2 separate regions of the Homo sapiens genome follow, and region 2 is linked to region 1. Evidence: fine-mapped expression QTL. Tissue or cell type: whole blood. Region 1 holds a variant in brackets; the other region holds the start of a gene. Each region is shown on its reference strand, or each on the opposite one. Region 1 overlaps KDM5C (lysine demethylase 5C). Region 2 holds the start of DEDD2 (death effector domain containing 2).

Evidence for each region. PIP is the estimated chance that this variant, and not a neighbour inherited with it, causes the effect.
Region 2: DEDD2 starts here. The variant in region 1 is the best candidate, but not a certain one, in a credible set for the expression of DEDD2 in whole blood (TOPMed, PIP 0.66).

What each region holds. Positions count from the first base shown.
Region 1 is chrX:53,201,876-53,206,203 of GRCh38, reverse strand. KDM5C (lysine demethylase 5C) reads left to right here. Exons shown (of 26, transcript NM_004187.5): 13 at 4,231-4,328. Among named protein-coding and RNA genes, the nearest start is that of MIR6894, 5.1 kb to the right of the region's middle. The variant C/G (reference allele first, on the strand shown) is at 2,352.
Region 2 is chr19:42,215,557-42,219,946 of GRCh38, reverse strand. It overlaps DEDD2 (death effector domain containing 2), which reads left to right and starts at 2,270. Exons shown (of 5, transcript NM_133328.4): 1 at 2,270-2,315; 2 at 2,902-3,267. The coding sequence starts at 2,940. RefSeq lists enhancers at 159-1,034, 1,035-1,911 and silencers at 2,683-2,782, 2,793-2,852, 2,934-3,139.

The sequences.
Region 1 (4,328 bases):
TAGCATGTTTTTGGGGTTCATCCACATTGCAGCATGTATCAGAACTTTATTCCTTTGATGGCCCAGTAATATACACCAGTTGATGAACCTTTTGAGTTGTTTTTACTTTTTGGCTATTCACAGTTGTCATTTTTAACAGCTGCAGAATGTGAGGAGAACTTTTCTAAATAACCACATAGGAAATAGTAAAGTGACATTGCCAGCATCAGGGTGCAGGGTGAGACAGAGTTATGAGCATCAAGTTCTACTCCTGGCTCTGCTACCTGAGGCTTATCTGAGACTTAGTTTTCTTGTCGATAAAATTAAGGCTGGCATAGTAAGACCCCTTCTAATTAATTAATAATAAATAAAACTAAGCCTGGGACTAGATCATTCAGTGAATGTTGCTAGAGCTCATTCTTTGTGCAAGGCCTCTCTGGTCAACACTCAGAAGGCAAATAACCCAGTGCCTGCGTTTGTGTATGCATAGCTGAGTGCTGGACAGAGGAGTAAATAAGTGGAATAAAGCATTAAAGGTGCTGCAAAAGAGCAACAAACTAGGTCATTTAGGAAGCGGGGGTTATCAGGAAAGGTTTTGTAGGAGCAGTGATCCCTGAAAGAAGAGTAAGAGTTTACCTGTCAGAGCTGTGGCTTAATCATGTGGGCATGGGGATTCCAGTGAGAGGCTCTCAGCTGAGGCATTACATGGTCAAATTTGCTATTTTTGGAAGATAGTTCTGGCAGTTAGTAATTGAGGCCAGTGCAGTAATACAGGTAAGAAAGAAATGCTGATGTTGCCTCTAAGTAGAGATAGATTTGAGAAGAAAATATGACGGAGGTGGGAGCTGATGCATGGTCCAAATAAATGTGGAGATATGTTTATGAATGGGAAGATTTGATATTGTTAGGATGTTAATTCTCCCCAAATTAATTTAGACTCCTGGCAGAGGAATCATTGGGTTGAAGGGTTCTTGATATACATTAGCAAATTTGTTTTCCAGAGAGTAGAATGTATTTATTCCCTTACCGGCACTGTACCTACTTCACTGTGTCTTCACCAAAATTGAATGTTTATCTTAAAAAGCTTTGTGAGACTTCTCAGTAAAGATGACAGATTAAGCATACACATGGCTACTTCCATTCTGTACTGAAACTCCACAAAAATTACATAAAGGGATTTTTTAACGTGAAAAAAATTACAGAGATGGAGAATACGAGAGAGGAGACAATGATAAAATTCTTGAAACTAGAAAACAGATAGATGAGAAAACTGAAACATAAGCCACTACTGAGGACATCTTGAGAACCAGCCCGATTCATACCTCAGAATCCCCCAAAGATTTGTTATCAGTGGCACCAGGCATTCTAGGGGTAAAGATGGATGGGGTGAAAATAAGGATTGGTTCATGTCTGTATAAGAAGCTGTGAGGGCCGGGTGCAGTGGCTCACGCCTGTAATCCCAGCACTTTGGGAGGCCGAGGCGGGTGGATCATGAGGTCAGGAGATTGAGACCATCCTGGCTAACACAGTGAAACCCCGTCTCTAACAAAAATACAAAAAATTAGCCGGGCATGGTGGCGGATGCCTGTAGTCCCAGCTACTCGGGAGGCTGAGGCAGGAGAATGGCATGAACCCGTGAGGCGGAGCTTACAATGAGCCGAGATCACACCACTGCACTCCAGCCTGGGCGACAGAGCGAGACACCGTCTCAAAAAAAAAAGCTGTGAGATACCCTCCCATGCTGGGCAGCTAGAAATGTCTAGTCACTCTAGTAAAAGACTGAAGATTTATTTCTGAAGAGGTTAAAACAGAGTCTCTGGTTTAAGGTCTCCTAGGTACAATTGAAGGTGGAGTTATAGGGAATGTAATTAGGATTTATCATACTGGATGCTGAGGTTCCCAGCCATCATTCTCCACTTGGCTGTTAGAACACTGGCTGCCAGGCCTTTTTTCCTACAGGCAAAAAAAAAAAAAAAAAAAAAAAAAGGATTTTCTTTGGGGAATCTGACTGGCCTGCAAGGAAAGACCTGGAGTTTCCCAAACTAAATGGCTTAGCTAGATCACCCTACAGTGAAGCTCACAGTTGACAAGCTTCATCTGTGTACTCAGAGCTTCCATTTAGCTTTTTAATCTCTTCCTCTTAAATATAAGCAGGCAGCCACAGATTAACAACTGAGAGGCCAGTGCGGTGCAGTGGCTCACGCCTGTAATCCCAGCCAAGGTGGGTGGATCACCTGAGGTCAGGAGTTTGAGACCAGCCTGGCCAACATGACAAAACCCCGTCTCTACTAAAAATACGGCATAGTGGCGTGTGCCTGTAATCCCAGCTGCTTGGAAGGCTGAGGCAGGAGAATCACTTGAACCCGGGAGGC[C/G]GAGGTTGCAGTGAGCCGAAATTGCACCACGGCACTGTAGCCTGGGCGACAAAGTGAGACTCTGCGTCAAAAAAAAAAAACAAAAAACTGAGGAAACCCTAAAAAATCCCCCAAAAAACAGAAGCAACTTGGAGATACAGAGGCTAGGCAGGGAGAAATAAACTTCAAAAGAAAGGCATATACTGTAAAAATGAATGAAGACCAGAATACTGTTTAAAAAAATAGCATACCGCAAACAAAGTTATGATAGCAAAAGTGAAAAATGTAAAAAGTGTATGTTTTCCACTTTTGAAAGATGAATAGTTGAGGAAATCTCCCAAAAAGTAGAGTAAAAAGATGGAAAAGGGTAGAAAAAATTAGGGAATTTTTCTAGGAGGTTCAATATTCAAATAGGAGTTATGAAAAGAAAATAGATGAAAACTGAGAGGATGAAATCATTAATGAAATCACTCAAGAAAATTTCCCTGAACTGGAGAACCGATTTTCCAGAGTCAATGGGCCTACCCAGTACATGAGTGAAAAGAAATTCATACCAAGATATATCCTGTAAATTTCCATGTCAAACACTGAGACCAGAAGAATCCTATAAGCTCGAGAGAGAGAGAAACAGGTTTCAAATGCTTATCAAGCATTAGAAATCAGAATGGCTTCGAACTTTTCAACAGTAACACTAGAAGATCAGAGCAGTGTGCCTTTAAAATTATTTTCTGAGTCAACAACTATGGGAGTTTTTAAAAAAAGGATTTTTGCCGGGCGCGGTGGCTCACACTTGTAATCCCAGCACTTTGGGAGGCCGAGGCGGGCGGATCACGAGGTCAGGAGATCGAGACCACGGTGAAACCCCATCTCTACTAAAAATACAAAAAATTAGCCGGGCGTGGTGGCAGGCGTCTGTAGTCCCAGCTATTCGGAGAGGCTGAGGCAGGAGAATGGCGTGAACCCGGGAGGCGGACCTTGCAGTGAGCCGAGATCGTGCCACTGCACTCCAGCCTGGGCGGCAGAGCGAGACTCCGTCTCAAAAAAAAAAAAAAAGGATTTTCATCTTAGAATTCTATATACAGTCAAGTGTGAGAGTAAGAATAGAGACTTTCTTTAAAAAAAGAAAAGTAGGTTCTTCACACCATTTCTCAGGAAACTGTTGGAGGATGTTCTTAAGCATAGCAAAGGAATAAACCAAGAAAGAGGAAGACGTGGGATCTAGGAAATAGGAGATCTGTCACAAGAGAGTGATGATCCAGGGAGGACAGCTGGTCCAGATTGGGACAGATCAGAAGGTTGCATGAGACTGCTACAGAAAGATGAAAATTGATAGGAAAAGAGATTTAAATATTGGTCAGAAAATTAGGGATATATGCATAAAAAACTGAGCAAATTGAGAAACAGGAGGCTGTTTTTAACATAGTCTAGAAGCATGTTATTTAAGGTAGTTATAATCAACGCCAAAATAATCAGAAGAGGTGGAAGTGATTGGCTGTGGGGAAGGGAGAATGGCAAGGCTGGCTGATTTTATAACAGATCTTTATAGAGCCATTTGACTCTACAAACTGCATATATAACTGATGAAAGTAAATAACTAAAAAAGCTTGTCCAGCTTGATTAAAAGTGATATTTATAATTTTTGCAAAAATTACTAAGGAAGTTGGAATATTTTGACAGATATATTTTTTAATCTCAAATCTTCCTATCATCTCAACACACATCAAAACCTTGAGAGCAGAGACCAGTGGTCCTTCCTTTCAGAGTTGGAGAGTCTGGGATTCTGTTGTCAGACTGTGTTCCCTGAGGCTTTTCTTTGTCTCCTTAATTACCTTGCACTTAAGTCAGGTCTGTATACAGGAAAATCTCTATCTCAACAGCCATGGCCTTTTGTGTTCTTCAGGTTGTCCGCACAAACCAGTGTGCAGGAGAGTTTGTCATCACCTTCCCCCGTGCTTACCACAGCGGCTTCAACCAAGGCTACAACTTTGCCGAGGCTGT
Region 2 (4,390 bases), not on the chromosome of region 1:
CCTCTCCGGGCCTCTGTTTTACTGGTGTGAAGTGAGCTTGAGTCACAGCCACCTCAAAGATTGTTTAGGGGATTGGATGATATCACACATGCACAGCGCTCATACACTGTAGGCGCCCACTACAACCCACTTAGCAAGACAGAATCCTTCACAGTTTGTTAAATTGCTTTCCTATTCTCCCTACTCTTCGTTTGATTTAATGATAGTCACTTACCAGGCCCCCTTGTGAGTTTAGCCCAGGACTATGCTTCCGTAGCTTACCATTGCCATCCATTTGTTTCACAAGTAGGGAAACTGAGGCCCAGAGAGGGGAAGGGATTTCTTGGAGGGTTTGTTTGTTTGTTTGAGACGGAGTCTCACTCTGTCGCCCAGACTGGAGTGCAGTGGCACGATCTTGGCTCACTGCAACCTCCGCCTCCCGGGTTCAACCGATTCTCCTGCCTTAGCCTCCCGAGTAGTTGGGATTACAGGTGTCCACCACCACGCCCGGCTAATGTTTGTATTTTTTAGTAGAGACGGGGTTTTGCCATATTGGTCAGGCTGCTCTCGAACTCCTGATCTCAGGTGATCCACCCGTCTCGGCCTCCCAAAGTGCTGGGATTACAGGCGTGAACCACCGCGTCCGGTCTTGTTTGTTTGTTTGAGACAGAGTTTTGCTATTGTTGCCCGGACTGGAGTGCAATGGCGCAATCTCGGCTCACGGCAACCTCCGCCTCCAGGGTTCAAGCGATTCTCCTGCGTCAGCCTCCCGAGTAGCTGGGATTACAGGCATGCGTCAGCACGCCCGGCTAATTTTGTATTTTTAGTAGAGATGGGGTTTCTCCATGTTGGTCAGACTGGTCTCGAACTCCCGACCTCAGGTGATCCGCCCGCCTCGGCCTCCCAAAGTGCTGGGAATGCAGGCGTGAGCCACCGCACCTGGCGTTTGTTTGTTTCTTGAGACAAAGTCTCGCCCTGTGGCCCAGGCTGGAGTGCAGTGGCACTATCTCTGCTTACTGCTCCCTGGTTCAAGAGATTCTCTTGTCTCAGCCTCCCAAGTAGTTGGGATTTCAGGCGCGTGCCACCACATCCGGCTAAGAACAGACAGGGTTTCATCATGTTGGCCAGGCTGGTCTCGAACTCCTGGCCTCGTGTGATCCGCCCACCTCGGCTTCTCAAAGTGCTGGGATTACAGACGTGAGCTACCGCGCGCAGCCGATTCTTTTGAATTCACTGCTACAGCTCAGGCAGAGCCAGTACTGGGCCAGTGCTAGGCAGGACCCAGATCTCCCGACTCCCAAGAGGAGTTAATTGCGGGGGTGGGAAGAGGTCCAGGGAGGGGACTTGTCTCAAGTACATGCAGGTCCTGACCTTGAGTCACCTAAGTGGGGGGCGTGGCGACCGTCACACCCAAGGCCCCGCGGTAAGGGGACACGCATACACCACAGCCTAGACTCCCTGACAGACCCTCTCTAGTTGTTGCAAGTTAGGGAGCGGGTATCTGGGCGACCCTGGAGGGCAGAGATTGGAAGGGGTTACGGAGGGGCCGTTTTGGCTCTGGGTGGAGACATCTGACTGTGATGGGGGTCGTGATGGACGCCATCGAGATGTACACAGTCGGAATGGAGGGTTCTGTTGCCGCTTGGAAGGAGGTATCCGTCCTGAACGTGAGATGAGGGAATTCTGGTTTTGATCAGGGGAAGGAACTTATAGACTGCGGGGGTGGTGGTGGGGGGGCGGGATTTCCATTTGGGATCACGAGAGAGCACAGTTGAGATGTAGATCCCTGGTTGTCACTAGAAGTGAGGGACAATCTAATGGAGGAGTGCCCAGGACCAGATCATATAAGGCCTGGGAGTTTACTGGGAGACGGGAAAGTAGTGATTGTGTTACTTTGCCACGGGCAACTAGGGGCAGTGGTGATGTGGGCGTCTAGCTCGTGATCAGGAGGGGGCTGTAGTTTATGAGATGAGTAGTTACAACTACTCGTGACGTGGCGCTACATGGCCCCGGTGGCTTGAGTCACGGGCAGGAAGTAGGGACCTGGAACCGGGTACCAGATACAGCCCAAGAGGCGGCGTGCTCTCGCTCTGCGCAAGCGCAGCACTCGCGAACCAAGATGCTTCGGTTGGGGGCAGGTCAAGCGGCCCAGGAAGGGCGGGGCTTGGAGGCCTCGTTCTGCGCATGCGCCGAAGGGGCGTGGCGGTCGCACCTGCGCGAGTTGGGGGAAGGAGGAGGGGCGAGGTGACGCAGGCGTAATAATAGAGAAGGTGCCAGAAAGATCCAAAACAAGTGGCTGCGGCCGTCGCCCAGGAGTCATCGGACGCCAGAATCTGGTGAGGATCCAGAGAGGCCTAATGGTGACTGGTGGCGGGTAGACAGGACCACCTGGGCTCTGGGGAGCGGGCGGGGCCGCCCTTGCAGGGCGAGGGGGTCGGGTTCGGACGGTACCACCTGTGTGGAGCAAAGGGGCTGCCTGGGTCGCTCCTCTGTGTAGGGGGCAGAGGGTCACTTTCGGGAGGTACCACTTGCGTAGAGCCGGGGGACTCATCAGACGGTACCGCTGGACGGAGAAAAGGGGCTCGTCTGGGCAGTCCTACCCAGAGTCAGGGGCAGTCAGCAGGGAGCCCCGGGGTGGGCCCCGAGGCTTGTTTGGGCCGCATCGTTTGGTCAGGTCCGGAGGCGAGCTCCGAACGTAGCACGGTGGTGGGGGCAGAAGCCGAGCGGGCTCCGGCGTCCCGACCTGTTCTTAGGGGACCTCGGGCGGGACCATTCCCTCCCGGGGGAGGGGGAGGCCGAGGCGGTTGGGGGTGCGGGAGCGGCCCTGCCCGGCGCGATTGGGCGGGGGAGACGCGCTGGCGGTGTGGGGTTCGGGCCTCCGCGTCGCTGACCACTGCCCCCTCCCCGCTGTGTGGGTTCTAGGCCGGGTTCTGAGCTTGTTCCGCCTCCCTCCCCCGGGAATGGCGCTATCCGGGTCGACCCCGGCCCCGTGCTGGGAGGAGGATGAGTGCCTGGACTACTACGGGATGCTGTCGCTTCACCGTATGTTCGAGGTGGTGGGCGGGCAACTGACCGAGTGCGAGCTGGAGCTCCTGGCCTTTCTGCTGGATGAGGCTCCTGGCGCCGCCGGAGGCTTAGCCCGGGCCCGCAGCGGCCTAGAGCTCCTGCTGGAGCTGGAGCGCCGCGGGCAGTGCGACGAGAGCAACCTGCGGCTGCTGGGGCAACTCCTGCGCGTGCTGGCCCGCCACGACCTGCTGCCGCACCTGGCGCGCAAGCGGCGCCGGCCAGGTACGGTTGAATGGGAGGGTGTCACACTTCCTGGGAGGAAAGGGCCTGGCTCCCGCTGGGCCTCCCTGGTGCCCTGATACGGACAGTGCCATATCAGGCAGCTTATGTCCCATTCTGCTACTCTCTCTTCCCACAATATCAATGAGCAACATAAGAGGAAGAAAGCATGGCTTTGGGAATTTGGCCACATCAGTGATGATGATTTTGGCCACTGTTTACGGAGGGCTTGTTTCATGCCAGGCACAGCTGTCAGCCCTTCATATGAACTAGTGCCTTATAGTCTCCCAGTAATCTCACAAGGAAGTCCTGTTACTGTCTTCACTGTAACCAAGAAAATAACAAGTTCAGAGAAGTTAAGCAGTTTGCACGTATAATAACAATCCTGTTTGCTGGGCCTAGGAGGGATACAGGATGATGGAGCTGACAAGGTGTTTGTTCCATGAAGTTTAAGTTTAGTGGGGGCAATCAGATAATAAGAGAACTTATTTTTAGACGCTGTTGTAGGAAGACTAAAAGTAATGGAATAGAGAGAGTCAGGAGAGCAGCAAGGTGAAGGGAGGCTTTGCCCTGAGGCTGCACTGCCAGCCATGCATAGACCCCAGGGGAGAAAATCCCAGGGAGCATCCAAGGCCTGAGGTGGGAATGAGTTTGGCATCATCAGAGGCCAGTGTGGCAGGAGCAGAGGGGACCCAAGCTAGGGAAGAGAGGGAGGTAAGAAGTTATGTCATGAAGGGGCTTGCAGAGAACGTAGCTGGGAAGTGTGGGAGCCAGGATTCAAACCTAGCCAACTTGTCCCCAGAGTTGATGCCCTTAATCCTTGTGAAGGAAGTGCTCCTGGAGGATAGCAGCCTTCACATGAGAAGCTGGGAGGGGTTCAGGCTGCCGGTAGCCGTGTGCATGAATAGACCAAGCCTTTGTCTGGGTTACTAAAGGGGCAGTGGCTAGTTTGGGGAGGGGGGATTATGGCCTTCCCTGACCCAGAGTAAGCCCACAGGATTTAGATAAGCAGGAGAAGGACAGCTCTAGGGAAGAGCTGACAGCATTTTTGGATATCTATGTCTGAAGATCACGCTCTAGAAGAGAAGATTTGGGGAGCCTGCACAGAGGCCTGCTTACTCCTTGG